Linked DNA regions of Homo sapiens. The protein of the gene in region 1 interacts with the protein of each later gene in a pairwise test. Each region holds a gene or a part of one and is shown in the gene's direction. Other genes may lie near its edges.

Region 1 (3,500 bases):
GAAACCCCATCTCTACTAAAACTACAAAAAATTAGCCAGGTGTTGCAGCAGGTGCCTGTAGTCCCAGCTACTCTGGAGGCCAAGGGAGGAGACTTGCTTGAACCTAAGAGGCGGAGGTTGCAGTAAGCTGAGATATTGCACCATTGCACTCCAGCCTGGGCAACAAGAATGAAACTCCATCTCTAAATAAATAAATAAATAGTGTAAATAAATACTGTATAAAATGCAAAGCACTCAGAATAGCCAAAACAATTTTGAAGTCAGAAAATAGCACTTACATGCTCTGATTTTAACATTACCTATAAAGCTGTTGTAAACAAGACAATGTGGTTTTGGCATAAGGACAGAGAAAGAGAACAGAGTTCAGAAATAGACCCAGACTTATGCTTGTTTTCAACAAAGGCATCAATGGAATGAAATGGAGAAATTAAAGTCTTTTCAACAAATGGTGCTGGAATAACAGATTACTCACATGGGAAAGATGAACCTAGATCCCTACCTCACACCCTATATAAAAGCTAATTTGAGATAAATCGTGGATTTAAAAATAAAAGCAAAAAATGTAAAGCTTCTAGAAGTATATATAAGAGAATAGCTTTTACAGGGTGCAGTGGCAGGTGCCTATAGTCCCAGCTACTAGGGAGGCTGTGGTGGGAGGATCACTTGAGGCCAGCAGTTTGAGGTTGTATAGTATACTATGGTTGATTTTGCCTGTTAGTAGCTGCTGCACTCCAGCCTGGTCAACATAGTGAGACATCATCCAACAAAAAAAAAAAAAAAGAAAGAAAAACAGCTTGATAAGTAAAGACAAGACATAGAAAGCAAAGCAATAACTTTTTTGTGTGTGTGTGTGGAGACGGGTCTCACTCTGGCACCCAGATTGGAGTGCAGTGGCTCAATCTTGGCTCACTGCAACCCCCACCTCAGCCTCCTGAGTAGCTGGGACCACAGGTACTCACCACCATGCCTGGCTAATTTTTTGTATTTTTTGTAGAAATGGGGTTTCACCATGTTGCCCAGGCTGGCCTCAAACTCCTGAGCTCAAGGGATCCTCCCACCTCAGCCTCCCAAAGTGCTGGGATTACAGGTGTGACCCACCAAACCTGGCCAATTCTCACATTTGTAGAAGAGAGTTACAAATACGGAAAGGGAGAAGAATGTAGCTTGTGGTGTTAGGTTGCATTTTGGAGAACTCAAAATGCAGTATGAACTCAAGGTGTTACCATGAGTGTGTGTGTATATGTAAAATTATAAATAATACATATGGAAGTTTCTACTGAACAGACCTAGAAACAATGACAAACCAGTAACAACAAGCAGTCCTGACACCCAGATCTTCTAAATACATTTATCCACTAAAAGGAACTAAGGTTGTTTGGAGAAATGGCCCTTTCCAAGGCTAGGGAAAAAATGCTAAAAAATTAAGGACATGCTCAGGGACATGTTGAAAGCACACAGGAGGCAGCCTACGGGGCTTCCACTTTCCTGTAGTGGAATTTTGAACAATTTGAGCATCAGAGTCAGTAATGATAGTAATGGGTTGTAACTGCCCAAATTTTGAACAATTTCAGCGTGCAAATAAGTTATGATAGTAATGGGTTGTAACTGCCTAAATTTTGAACAATTTCAGCGTGCAAATAAGTAATGATAGTAATGGGTTATAACTGCCCAAGTATTGAAAAATTTCAGCATCAAAGTAAGTAATGAGAGTAATGAGTTATAACTTATTCAATAAAATGAAAATGTATGAGTCCATCCTGATATAAATAACTGAATAAATGGGAGAAAAGGAAAAGGTTTTCTTTGTGGTAAAATGCCAATTAATATCTTACCAATAGAAGGAATGTTGGAGTTAGAAAGTCATGAATGAATGCTAAAACTAGTGGGTGAAAATATGATGGGGAAGAAGATATTTGGATAATCCAAAAAGAACCTCTGATAAATTATTGATTACTTATAAATGAAAAAATGGTACCTTTAAAAGCTAGAAACCTGGTGAATACCAAACCATTTTAACCAAGTGATCAAAGATAACATCACCTGGGATAAACTGATTGTCATTTGTGTCCTAATAAGACTCACTGAGAAAAATCATACTATCATTCAGTGGTATACCTGCCTTTTGGCAGAATCTTAATCTAATTCTGAGGAAACATCAGACAAATCAAAATTGATGACCCTTAACAAAAGAACTCGCCCATGTTCTTCAAAAATATCAAGCTTAAGAAGCATAGTCTGAAGAACTGTTACAGACAAAAGCAAACTAGAGAGATTGATAGTTGTACAATGCATGCTTCTTTATTGGCTCAAATAAAGGAGCTAGAAGGACATTACTGAAATATAGGTGAAATTTGAATGTGGACCAAGGATTAGATAATAGTGTTTGATTCATGTTAAATTTCCTGATTTTTGTTTTGTTTTGTGAGACAGGGTCACCCAGGCTGGAGTGCAGAGGCACAATCATGGCTCACTGCAGCCTTGAACTCCTAGGCTCAAGTGATCCTTCTGCCTCAGCCTCCCAAGCAGCTAGGACTACTAGCTACATGGCACACACACCATGCCCGGCTAAATTTATTTTTAATGGAGACAGGGTCTCGCTGTGCCCAGGCTGGTCTCAAACTCCTGGGCTCAAGTGATCCTCCCACCTCGGCCTCCCAAAATGCTGGGATTACAGGTGTGAGCCGCCACACTTGGCCCAATTTCTTGAGTTTTATAACTGTGCTTATGTAAGAAAGTGGCCTTGTTTTGGGGAAGTATACACTGAAATTAAAATTTAAGAGTAAGAAGGCATTGTATCTCCAACTTTCTCTCAGATGGTTCAGAAAGAAAATATTAAAGCAAATGGAGGGAAAATATAAATGGTGACTCTGGGTGAAGGAAATTTCTGTAAGTTTACAATTATATAGAAAGGGAAGGAGAGAAGTATGACTCCTGAGAGTCACTGCAACATTTCCAAACCAACTGCCAGTGGCAGGCAGGGCCACCCCACACAGAGCATTGCACAGGCCACCATGAGCCTGCTAGCATATGTGGTCAGTCAGTGCTTGGTCAAATGTGGACGACTTGAGCTATCAAATGCCAGTTCATGAAAATGTTAGTTTTTTGCTGTTTTTCTCCTTTCCCAGCTGAAAATGTAGCCAAAAAATGGCAAGTGAGTAGAGAAGATCAGGACAAGGTTGCAGTTCTGTCCCAGAACAGGACAGAGAATGCACAGAAAGCTGGCCATTTTGACAAAGAGATTGTACCAGTTTTGGTGTCAACTAGAAAAGGTGAGTATATCATAGTGGTTTAAACATCAACCTATTTATAGGTAAGAGTAACATCTAAAAGAGTAATACATAGGAATCTTTAGAAATTATATCTTAGTTATGTTTTTCAGGTTGCAAATATATGTCCTGGATACATGAATGTGGGGAGGGGGTATGCTGGGTTTACAGGACACGGTAACATGGGACCTATGTCAGCACTCAAGCACTCTTGGTTCCAGAGCGTCCATGACC
Region 2 (3,500 bases), on another chromosome or scaffold:
AACCAGAGTATGGGGTTAGAAATGGAGGCAGAGGGACTACCATGTCGGGGAGGATGCACAATGAATTGGACGAAGGTTGCAACTCAGTGAGCACCGTACCTGTAGTGTGTCTTAGTAATAGCAGATGCCCAACCTCCATGCCTAACTCCTTTGCCTACCCCACCAGTGTGCAGCAGCCTCTGCCGCACCCTACTGCAGTCTCTCCTATTTCCCTGGCAGGAGAGCTCAGAGACTACTTGTGAACAGGCCTCAATGCCTATAGCAAGGCAAGGCTTGGGAGAAACAAATGTCCTCTGGGAGCAGCCTTGGGTAAAAGATTAACTGCGCACTGAGCTTTAGATCCCTGAGTGAGAAAGCTGTGGGAAAATGAGTGTGTAGCTCATGAGAGGGTTTGGAGAAAAGTGGTGACATCGCAAAAATCCCAGGTTTTGTTGAAGTTGTCTGTGGAGGGGCACTCATAGAAAGGGCACTGGACGTGAGCATTTCCCTTGTAGTTGAGATGGGATTTGACATGACTTCCTGGTGGTGGCAAGACAAGAAAGTGGCAACCTGGGACAGTGGACCTCACAGCTCTCCTGCTAATGGTGCTGATGGCTAAGCTCAGCTCTTACCCTTGACCACTGGAACAACTTAGACATGTCACCAGCTTTCTGAGCCTGTCTCATTACGATGAAAATTGTGATACAGGTTAGTGTAAGGACCGACAATAATGCATATAACATCAATAATGATGGATATAGAATTTCTGCAGTTATTATAATCTGGCTCTCCAGTATGGTAGTCGTGGGCCACATGTGGCTATTGAGTTCTAAAAATGTGGCTAATAGAACTGAGGAAGTGAATTTTCAATTTGATTCCATGTTTGTTAATTCGAACTGAAAAACACCACGTGTGCCAAGTGGCTGCCATACTGGAGAGCGTGGTCAAATGACATGCCTAGCTCAGTGCCTTTCGCATGGGAGGTATGCAGTACTTCCTGCCACGATGGCTGTTACTCTTGTCGTTGTGAGCAGTGCCTTGGTCCCGATGATGATTCTCCAAAATGTAATCTCTGCTGACAGAACAAGAGTCTGCAAATTGGGAGTCTGGAAAGGGAAGAGAAGGGCTTTGTCCCTGGCCCCAAAGACTCAGGGAGAGGTTTACTGGCCAGGTAGAAAGGGCGTCCAGGTGAAGGGACCCTGGTTCAGTGATCTCCAACCTGCACGTCTCATTTGTGAGGAAGCCGTAGGGTGTGGACTTTTCTTGTTTCTGACCTTGAGTGATTAGAAAATAGCAGCTTTTATATGTCACAAATGGACTTTAGATAAGCATGAAGATGACGAAGACTGTGGAATATGTAGCTAAGAGTCTTACTAAAATCCTCTCTAGTGTATTTATATATTTAAGCGTTTGGTAGTACTTTTTTAGCCATCAGCGTTCTCTATATTAGGTTGATACAGAAGTTATTGAGGTTTTTGCCATTGAAAGTAATACGTCACTTCATGCAGAGGTGGAATTGGCGCTCTGAGCTTGCTTGTCAAATTCACAGGCATTCACTTTTCTTTCATAAACATTTAGGACTCTGTATTTAGGAGAGGAATCACTGTGAATGTAGACCTCGGGTTGGTCATTTTCCTAGTAAGATAGACCAGACTGACTGGAAAAGTCACCCTCTTGGGCTATCCTGCGTATGTGGCTCGGCATTGCTTCCGTCAGGATAATGCATCAGTTTCTTGGACAAAGGGTGCATTTCTGCTATTTGAATGCAGACATATTTTTGGATATAAGCCACGCAGTTGCATCCCATTTCTTCCGTAGGTAAAGGCTGGGTTTCTAATTGTGATTGAGAAGCTTAGCATAGATGCAATGTCCCTATCACCAGATGGCTAGTGTGCTCTGCCTTGTCTGCCTTTTACCTTAGAGAGGGTGCTTCCTTCTGACACGGGTATTGCTGGAGTACACATTCTGTTGCATGAGGTCAGGGGAGCAAGAAATACAACCCAGACTTGCGCTCGGAAGCCCTGCCTTCATTTCTTCTCTGTAGCTGGCTCCCTTAAGTATTAAACAGCAGTATTCTAATATCAACGTCCCTTTTTTATTTGCTGTGACTTGCTGTGACTACGGTGATTTTAGTTACAGTAATTAGGTCACTCTTCATGGAGTCGGGCTATTTTAAGTGCCTCTTTAAGGAATATTGTTGCAGATCAGTAATTTTACAATTGGATGTTCTTGTGCAACTTTATTAAATGTGATCTGTCTTTTAAATGTTGCCCTTTTACAGTTACACATTTCTAATTGTTGCTGTAAATGCATTATCACTTTGAAATTAATTAATTTTTCCATTTTGGCTGCCTGCAATATAATAATCACTAATGAGAAACTCACAGGAATCAATTCTCAGCACAGCGGCCCCTACTGGTAAAGCCATGTCTCTGCCTCCCTCTTCTTCTTCAGATCCAGAGAACTGGACAAGTGTATTGGGGCGTCCTGGGAGGGAAGTGTTTGTTTCTTCCTCCCTTCAATTTATGGTGAAATAAAAATCACAGATAAACTTGGAAAGTGAGTTATTTTTAAGTGTCGTTCTAAAAAAGATGCAATATACTTCAAATAGCTGCTTCTAAAATATGTTAAAGGAAACTAACATTTGCTGAGTACTTTCTAATAATGAAGTCACATCATACGTGCATTACATGTTTATTTTCTTGACTCTAGAGCATTCTTTTATGCAGTTAAATTACTCTAAAATGTTTTGCACCTGCACGCATTAATGTGTATTGTTTGGTAAGAACTTTCGAGTTGGTGAAAAAATGTATTGTATTTTAGTATCTATATTTATATATACATATTAGTCTATGGGTTTTAATTCACAAAACCAGGTGTTGTATCTGGTGCACATAAGGGATTTTCAAGGCTAATCTTGGGTTTTTGCAGTTGTAACCATGTGTGATGACTTTAGAATCCTACCACACTTCCAAATAGAGATGCAGATTGACCATTTTCCCAGATACCACGATGCTTTATGTATCAGCATATATTTTCATTAATTTCTCATAATTTCTGTTAGAATTAATAATTCCAAGTTCTACAATCTTAGAATTATTATCTTTATTTTGTAATTGAAAAGCACAGAAACCTCATGCAGCGTGTTCAAGAAAATGATATACCAGCCTTGTAAACTTTCACTTGCTAATTGCAGCTGCATTTGCTTTGTCCAATGCACGGTAATGCCCCTGGCATCCATATCTAGTTATGCAGTTATGCTTCCTTTTTAAAATGTTTGACAGCACCTTCACTGAAATGAATGCTGCCACCACCGCCAACCCCACCTTTTTTTTTTCCACATAAGCTTTCATTTCTGGTAAATACATCCTTGCCAGAGTTCCCAGGTCCAAGCCGGTCCTTTGTGGACCAGTATGCAGATTTGAAGTTGAGCACTGTCACTTGCCTCTTAGGAGTGTTTTGTGCAACCACATATTTGTGTTGGCAGATAACAGTAGAAAGAATATCATGTGTTAGGGTAG

What was found.
Region 2: the proteins of ACAT2 (region 1) and WWOX interact in binary tests that used the Homo sapiens proteins (3 or more experiments, as listed by UniProt).

Annotation. Positions count from the first base shown.
Region 1 is NC_000006.12:159,772,045-159,775,544, forward strand, and holds part of ACAT2 (acetyl-CoA acetyltransferase, cytosolic), read left to right. Parts: intron 1-3,125; coding exon 3,126-3,269; intron 3,270-3,500. UniProt on the Homo sapiens protein: Involved in the biosynthetic pathway of cholesterol.
Region 2 is NC_000016.10:78,435,154-78,438,653, forward strand, and holds part of WWOX (WW domain-containing oxidoreductase), read left to right. Parts: intron 1-3,500. UniProt on the Homo sapiens protein: Putative oxidoreductase. Acts as a tumor suppressor and plays a role in apoptosis. Required for normal bone development. May function synergistically with p53/TP53 to control genotoxic stress-induced cell death.